Linked DNA regions of Homo sapiens: region 1 is linked to region 2. Evidence: fine-mapped expression QTL. A gene starts in region 2. The other region holds a variant in brackets. All regions are shown on one strand. Distances are from middle to middle.

Region 1 (4,501 bases), 57 kb before region 2:
CGCCCACACCCACGCCTGCCCACCTGACTCGCCCACATGCACGCCTGCCCACCTCACTTGCCTGCCCACCTCACTCGCCCATACGCACGCCTGGCCACCTGACCTGCCCATACACATGCCTGTCCACCTGACCCGCCCATACGCACGCCTGCCCACCTGACTCGCCCATATGCACGCCTGCCCACCTGACTCATGCAGTTTGAGATGGTGCCCCGCATGGATATAGATTCCCAGGTACTTGGCAGAGCTTCACAGCCTGGCGTACTCAGGCCTCTAGAGTAAGTGGCCACCAGAGTAAGTGGGTCCTTGAACCTCAGCCCTCATGACGAATGACATTCAGGGAAAGCTGGGAGCACCGGCATGGTGTGGGGCTGGGGTTTCTGAGGCCTGCAGGCCTTGGGCACGACGAAGGCTCTGGTCCCACACCTGGCCCTGCTCAGGGGCACAAGGCCCCATGCCTGCTCTCCAGTGTGGCCCGTTAAACCCAGAGCAAGAAGAGGGAACGGGGTGGGAGTCTGCCAGCGACATGTGACTCATGTAAACTTCAGGGGCCTGGAATGATCTGGAGGCCAGAGCTGGAAGTAGGGGAAAGGTCGCAGCGTCGCGCCAGCTGTGGGGCTGTGGCCAAGGCCAGTGGGAGAAAGGTGGCCGGTGGCCAGCCGGGCCAGACACCCATAGGCCAGCCCTGGCCTGGCCGCCAGCCACCTGGGCCAGCTACACAGACCTGCGGACAGGCCTGGCCGGCTTCTGGTCTCTAGGGCAGGTGCAGACCAGCGTGGGGAGGGAGGGCCGTGGAAAGAGGAGGCCCCATGGTGGTGCCTCCCTCCTCCTGCTTGGAAAGGCTCCTCCAGGCCCCAGCCCTTGCTGTCCCAACAGGAGGGCATTCTGGGGCCATGCCAGGGTGCGATGGCTGAAGGGGAGGAGTTGGCTGGACAGGGGTCTGGTGGCTGTGGGGCCTCCCCATGGGGCCCCTGCTAACCGTCCGGCCCTCCTCACCCATGGGCAGGGGCTCATAGAGGAGAGAGGCAGAGGCAGGAAGGAGAGCAGCGGACTGTGCTCATCCCTCAGCTAGGCCTGTCCCCTCCAGGCTGCGGCCAGGACCGCACAGCCCCCACCGAACACAGGTGCGGGACGTCCGCCAGGCTTCTAGATTGTTTCCAGATTGCTGCTGAGTTTGTTTCAACAGCAGATGCGGAAGCCCGGCTGCTGCCACCGCATCCCAGTGCCCTTCCAAAGCCACCTGCTGCGGACAGAAGCAGTTTCATACACAGAGGATTCCAGAACAACCAGAGGCGAGCCCTGGACAGGGAGAGCAGGAGGGGCTCTGCGCACGGGCTTGGCTGGCAGTCGGTAGGTGTTCACCAGGGCAAGGGCAAGGGGGGCACTCTTGCCGGGGAGCTGTGCAGGCAGAGGTGGGCAAGGGCAGAGCCGTGTCCACAGGGACCCACTGGGAGCTGCCATCTCACACAGAGACAGGGTCCTGCCAACTCTGGATGCAGGCAGACTGGAGCTGGGGGAAGCCAGGAGAAGGAGATGGAGACAGATGTTTGCAGGTAGAGAGAGATCCAGGTCATCTTTTCATGAAAAAACCCAGCTTCATTGAGATATAATTCATATACAATGAACTGCACCTACTTCAAGTGTACCATTTGGTAAGTTCTCCCATCTACACTCCTGAAACTGTCCTCACATCAGATACCGAACATCTCCATCATCACCCTCAAAGGGTTCTTCAAGCCCCATTAGATACTCCCTCTCTCCCGCCCCGCCCCCATCCCAGGCAGCCTCCCATCTTTCTGTCGCCATAGATCAGTTTGCATTTTCTAGAGCTGTAGATGAATGGGTCACGTGGAATGTGTTCTTTTGGTCCGGCTTCTTGAGTTCCGCAGTTATTTTGAGATTCGTGTCTCTGTGTGGTCGTGGTTTGTTCCTCTCTTGCTGAGTGGTATCCACTGTATTCTTCAGCTCCTGCGGGAGCCTTGAAAACCAAAAGCCACAATCACATCAACACCCAGCAGCCTGGAAGCGCCGGGAGTGGCAGATCGGGGTTGGAGCTCCTTCGAAGGCTTAATCCTGAGAACTGTCGTTATTTCGCCGTCTGGCGGTTCCCTGGAGAACCCTACTTGCAAGCCTGCCCTCATTTGACCTGCCTGGGAGCTCCCCCC[G/A]TAAGAAAAGCCTTTTTCTCAAGGGGATTTGTCAAAAATGATGTGGAAGAAATTGCCTAATTTCATGGCTGAGGAGGCACATGGCCGTTGGAGCAGACACTGGGCTCACCAAAAGGCTTAGGAGGAAAAACTGGGCGGTGAAAAGTGCAGAGGTGCGTTCAGAGGCTCCAACGTGTTCCCGGGCTCCTAGGAGGCCGTGCACGTTCCCAGGCACCCGGGAGGCTGTGCACATTCCTGGGCTGTGGAAGTGCTCAGCAAGGACCTGGGGCAGCTGAGATCTCACCTCTGGGTGACCTTGACGCTCTGAGCAGCAGAAAGTGCAGGCTAGGGCAGAGATGCTGCTGGTCTGGCTGAGTGTTTAAGGTACCCCCATCACCCCACAGAGCCCTTGGCAAGGACTGGGAAGCTCTGGCGTCGAAGGCCATCTCTGTCCAATCATTAGCCACCCACCGCACTGCTGAATGGAGTTTGCAGGGTCCACACACAACACAGAAAGCAGACTCCAGAATTAGTCCAGAGAAGTCACTAACCAAACAAAACTGCAGCCACAAAACCTGGGTAAAGGGAGAATCTGATTTCCACAGTAGCCACATTATGTTACCTAAAATGTCCAGTTATTAACAAAAACTTACCAGACATGCAAATAAACAAAAAATTATGGCCCATGCACAGGGGAGAAATCAACAGAAACCTCCTGAAATATCCCAGAGACTGGATTTATTAGACAGAGACGTTAAATCTGTTGTTTAAAACATGCTAAATAAACTAAAGGAAAGCATGTCTAAAGAATTAAAATATGAGGACGATGATCTCACTGCATAGCACCTCTGCGTCTGCAGGCCAGAGCCACCCCACCCTCCAAAAGTTGCCTGCAAACAGCTACCAGATTAGAAATCGGTCTGAGGAGGCACTAGGAGCCCCCTCAAGTCCAAGGGAGCTGGAATGAAAGCAGCAGTCAGCCTGGCCTCCGAGGAGGCGGTGGCTTCAGGCAGAGGGGGCAGTCCTCAGGCACTGTTGAGCTGGGCACACCCTGCTTTAAGGATAGATCCAAAAGAACAGAAATGACAAAGAGCCCGGCGCAGTGGCTCACATTTGTAATCGCAGTCACTCAGAAGGCCGAGGCAGGAGGATTGCTTGAGGCTAAGAGTTTGAGACCAGCCTGAACAACGTAGTGAGAACCTGTCTCTCCAAAATAATAATAATAATAATAATAATAATAGTAATAATAAGCTAGGCTTGATCCTGTAGTCTTAGCTACTTGGGAGGTTGAGGCGGGAGATCTCCTGAGCTCAGGAGTTCATCAAGGCTGCTGTGAGCTATGGCCACGCCACTGTACTCCAGCCTGGGTGACAGAGCGGAAAAAAAAAAGGGGGGAGTTGGGTATTGGGTGTGGGATGGAACCTGGAAAGGCACAGCCTTTGTACACCGTGCAGGGCTCTGGGGACAGTCGAGAGATTGCCACTCTGTCTGCTGCTGTGACGAGTCACTGCCCACAGCCCTGGGGATGACGATCCTGCCTGGTCAGCCCTGCCCTGTCTGCCTGAAGGTGCCGGAGCAGCCTGAGGGCGGGGTTCTCCTCTTGTTTGGTCTCTCCCTCAGGGGATGCTTCCAGAGGGGCTACTGGTCTCAGGAGCAGCCTGGCAGCCTGGCAGCCTCACCCCCAGCCTGCATGGCCCGCAGGACATTTGCTTTCTCTTATCAAGACCAGCCCTGTGAACAGAGCCAAGTGCTTCGTGTGGGCGCCTGGCAACTGAGCCACCCTGCTGGCTGCCACGCTCTCCCTGTGCTCCGTCTGCAGTGACAGGGGAGGGACTCCACCAACCCACACAGGCCCGATGGTGAGAGGTGACAACCTGCTAGCAGCCCTCGCTGGCTCTCGGCGCCTCCTCGGCCTCGACGTCCGCTCTGGCCGCTCGAGGAGCCCTTCGGCCCGCCGCTGAGCTATGAGGGCCCCTCTCTGGGGCTGGCCGAGGCCGGAGCCGGCTCCCTCTGCTCCCGGGGAAGTGTGAAAAGAGAGGCGCGGGCGGGAGCCAGGGGTGCGCGCGGCGCTCCTGGGCCGGCGCGGGTTCCGGGTGGACGCGGGCCCGCGGGCCCCAGCACTAGGCGTGCCCGGCTGGCGCCTGCTGGGCTTGATTGGAGGCTGGGTCCCGTGCGTGGACCGCCGTTCCCTCTTCACGGGGTCGTTGGCCACGATGGCGGGTCTCCGTCTTTCTCGCTTCCCCTCTTTTCCTCTTGGTTGTCGGGGACGAGCTCCCTCTGGGCTGCCGGAGTACCTGGGCTAGGTGCCGCAGAGTCCCCGGCGAGTGACAGTAAGAGGTGAAGCGGGCTGGGCTGCC
Region 2 (4,204 bases):
ACGGCTGGTGCCATGGACTGATTGACTGATGTACTGCTAAGCTATAATTAATAGCGTAATAGCTACTTCCAGAAGACTATGACAGCACTTGGCTGTTCAATTCCCTTAATGCTAGTTTTCAACTTCCCTTCTTCTCCCACCCACATCCCAAATTTGTACAAGCAATAGAAAACAGAGAAAGAAATGGCTTTATGTTTGGAATCACCCTGAAGGTGTTTCATATTTCCAAAGCCTGCCTAAGGCCAAAATGTTAGCTTTGGAAAATTTGCCTTATCTAAACTATACGTCAAGAAATAAACACAAAACCAGTTGCCTTTCTTAGTCCACTTCCTCATGACAGTCAGGAAGTAGGCTTCAGTCGCCGAAGGCTCATCATCACTTTCAGGTGAGCCTTAAACTCCGCGTCTGCGATCTCTCAGACTTCTGAAATATGTTTCAGGCAATAATTTAACTGCATATTCTACAACATAAGAGTAATCCATTTAAGATACTCCATACAAAATATCTATCTCATCCAGAAAAAGAACACACTGACAAAAACCGATCCTTCACAAATAACTAAGAAACTGGGAGGGGTACCTATCTGCCTTAAACTTCCTGATCTGAAATATACTGACTGGCCTGGTGCGATTTCCCTGTTTTTTCTTTAGTAAGTTTTTAAAATTTTTAGGACAATTTTATATTTTCAGAAAAGCTGCAAAGAAAATACAGAAAACTCCCTCGCCCAGTTAATCCCCCATGCCTTATTACACTACCACCTCACATTTGTCGAAATACGCTTTTAAATCACACACTCTAAAAAGCATATTAGCTTGTACAGTACTTTCTCGTTTAACACCCGGATTTCAAAGTTTCATCCTCTTGATTCTCTCGAGCACTAAAAACACGGTAATCTGTAATTACCATCAATGATGCAAGTGGCAAAATAACTCCTACAGCCGTTTTCCCACTCATGCCGCCAGCCAGGGAAAAGAAAACGCCCGGACATCGGGGCACTTCAACCTTTCCCTACATTTCTGTTTTGGAGGTTCCAGCAGGTCGCCGAGTGACGAGCCTGAGACCACAGATTACCTGGAGAAGTCCACCTGTCCCGACGCGGCGCGAGCCCCACCAGGCTCCCGAGGCCGACCGGGCAGGAGAGGGGGGCGGGGAGGCCCGGGGGCGTTGGCTGCGCCCCGACCTCGCGCCGCACCCGACCGCGCCGGGGGCCCGGACCCCAAGGTGCGCGCCCGAGGGGACCCAACCTGGCCGCGGAGGAGGGGAGGAGGGTGGCCCCTCCGGTGTCGAGTTTCCCCGAGGACAGGGTCTCTCCTCCCGAGGCTCCGACCGAACAAAGAGCACGGCAGGGCTAAGGGGCAAAGGCCGTGGCGGCGTGGAGTGGACAGCGGCCCCCGGCTCGCGCCCCGCGCCCGCCCGCCCGCGCGGCCTCGGGTCTGCGCCCGGCTCGCTCGCTGCAGGTGCGGCCCCTCAGCGCGGCCCCCCCGCGGCGGCCGGACTCCTGCGCCTCACTCACTTGTCGTACTCCTGTGTCATCGCGCCCGCTCGCCGCTGCCGGGCCGCAGAACTGGACTTTCGGGTTGGGACAGTACACCCGATCCGGGGGGAGGAGGCGGCGGCGGCGGCTGCGGGTCCGGAGCGGCGGCCCCGACGGGTTGGGTTTGCTTTTCTCGCTCTGAGCCGGCTCCGCGCGGGCTGCGCGCACTGGGCGCCGGGCTCGGCCGCTCATTGGCTGGCGATGCGCCGGCTGGGGGCGAGGCCTCGGGGCTGGGAGGCCGGTCGCGCCTCCTGATTGGTCGGCGAGAAGAGCGCCGGGGCGGGGCTGACGGGGACGAGCGGCGCGGGGCGGGGGGCGGGGGCCGCGCGTTCCGCGAGGTTGCGCCCGGGACTGCGCTCCCGGGGCTGCGCGCCCGACTCGCGGCCGTACGCGCCTGCCCTGACAGGAGAGGGAGCGCTGCGGCTGCGGCGCGCACCCGCCAACCTCCGCGCGCACCGAGAGCGCCCCCGCTCGCGCCCCGCCACCGCCCCCGCCGCCCCCGCCGTCCCCGCCGTCCCCGGCCATCCCCTTCGCGACGAGCCCCGGCCGTACAGCCGCCTCCTTCTTCGCTCACTCAGGCCTCCGCGCCCCGTGCCCACATTGCCCGCTGTTCCGGCCCCAGCGCCCCGCGCTGCCCCTGCGCTCGCCCGGCGGGGGCGCCTCTGCCGGTCGCCGCGCTCCCCGGTCGCGCGTCTCACCTCTCGGTTCTCGCAGGCTGTCACGCCCGAGTCCCGTGGCTTCCCCCGAGAGCCGTCTCCGGAATGTCCCTTCTCCTGGCCCACCGCGGCCGCGCGCTTTTAGGATTTCTTGCCCTCGCAGCTCCCGCGGTCCCCTCGGCGGCAGTCCCTGGGGCTCCGCGATGTCTGTGCCCCGCAGCCTCCCGGGCGCCACTTCCCCGCGCGGCCGCCCCACGCTGCCCGTGCAGTCGCGCGCCCCGGGCCGGCCCCGGGCACCACTCCACCGCGACGGCCCCCACTTGTCCTTCCCGAGCTGCCGTCTTTCCCAGGGTCCGCTCACTGAGTCCCCACATGCCCAGCGTCGGACCTGACCCTCGGACAGGCGCGGCCCCAGACGCCGGGGACAGGGCAGTCAACAGAACAGACACAACTCCTCGCCTTCCTAGTTGGGGTAACGGGCAATACAAAAACAAGTAAATGGTGTGGCTGGTTGGAAGGTAAAGCAGGCAGGCCCTGGGGAGGCGGGGAGGAGCGAGGCTTTCAGGCTTGAAGGAGATGAGGGGCCACGAAGGTGGGACTGTACCTGAGGCAGGGACCCTGGTGTGTTTTGTGACCCTTGAGGAGACCCGGGTGGCTGGTGGGGCACAGGGAGGCGGGAGCTGCGGTCAGAGATAGTGGGCGCAGGGGAGCGGATTGAGCAGGGCCTTGCCGGCTTCCGTAAGGACTGTGGCTTTCCCTCTGGGCTAGGTGGGGACGCCTTGGAGGGGCTTGGAGCAGGGTAGTGACAGGGTCTCACATTTTAAAATAGTTCTCTGCTGCTGCGTGGTGGGGACCAGGTAGGAGGCCATTGCCATGATGCAGGCCGAGGGCAATAGAGTGAGGTGGTGGGAAGTGGCCGAATTCTGGATATGCTTTGAAGGTGGGACCAGCAGGATTGTCTGAAAATTGGATATGGGGTGTGAGAGAAAGAGAGAATCAAGGATGACTACAGCGTTTCCAGCTGGGCAACTGGAGGAATGATTTGCCATCCCCTGGGATACAGAAGACCTGGGGCATAGAAGATTTGGGGGAGAACGAGAGTCTGTTTTGGACGTGCTAAGCTCAAGATGTATGGGAGATAAAAATCCATGAATCAGGTGGGCTCCTGGGTACGAGGCTGGAGTGCAAGGGAGAAGTCTGGGCTGAAGCTCACATCTGGGCGCCGCCCACGTCTAGAGGCCATTTAAAGCCATGAGAAGGCAGGAAGGAAAGAGGATGGGACCCATGCTGGATCCAGGAGCCTCCGACACAGAAAGGCTGGGAGGAAGAGCCAGTGGAGGAGACAGAAGACGGGGACACCGAGGTCGGAAGCAATGGAAGCGTGGAAGCCAAGGGAAGGAGGTGAAGTGAGGAGCAGCATGAGGTCACAGGGCCCTCCTGCAGCCAGCAGTCCCTCCTCTGTGCCCTGGTCCAAGGCCTTCAGGGACCGGAATCGGCAGCCTCACTTGAGACCGCCCTTCGCAGTTTCTGTCCTCTGACCCCGGGCCCAGCACTGGATCCATGCAGCCTGTTGTTTGTTCTTACCACTAGTTTCCTGTTTAAATCATTTATTATTTTTTTCTTTTCCTTTTTTTTTTTTTTTTTTTTTTTGAGGCGGAATCTCCCTCTGTTGCCCAGGCTGGAGTGCAGTGCCGTGATCTCAGCTTACTGCAACCTCTGCCTCCTGGGTTCAAGCGACTCTCCTGCCTCAGCCTCCCAAGTAGCTAGGATCACAGGCGCCCACCACCACGCTCGGCTAATTTTTCTATTTTTAGTAGAGATGGGGTTTCACTAAGTTGACCAGGCAGGTCTCAAACTCCTGACCTCAGGCAATCTGCCCGCCTCGGCCTCTCAAAGTGCTGGGATTACAGGCATGAGTCACCGCGCCCTGCCAAATCAATTATGTTTTCTAAGCACGCTAATTTAAGAAAAATGCTAGTCAATAACAGCACAGATGGTCCCAAATAGGGTACAA

Direction of the effects. Alleles are on the strand shown, and positions count from the first base shown. SD is a standard deviation of normalised expression in the study named.
As copies of G replace A in region 1, the expression in lung of the gene that starts at base 1,674 in region 2 goes up (small effect, 0.28 SD a copy in GTEx).

The links. PIP is the estimated chance that this variant, and not a neighbour inherited with it, causes the effect.
Region 1: its variant is the best candidate, but not a certain one, in a credible set for the expression of GRHL1 in lung (GTEx, PIP 0.83).

Annotation. Positions count from the first base shown.
Region 1 is chr2:10,006,241-10,010,741 of GRCh38, reverse strand. No RefSeq gene overlaps it. Among named protein-coding and RNA genes, the nearest start is that of KLF11-DT, 35 kb to the left of the region's middle. The variant G/A (reference allele first, on the strand shown) is at 2,166.
Region 2 is chr2:9,949,163-9,953,366 of GRCh38, reverse strand. GRHL1 (grainyhead like transcription factor 1) reads right to left here and starts at 1,674. Exons shown (of 16, transcript NM_198182.3): 1 at 1,514-1,674. The coding sequence starts at 1,533. LOC105373422 (a long non-coding RNA gene) reads left to right here and starts at 2,514. Exons shown (of 3, transcript XR_922784.4): 1 at 2,514-2,662. RefSeq lists silencers at 1,384-1,923, 2,014-2,063, 2,164-2,213, 2,364-2,443.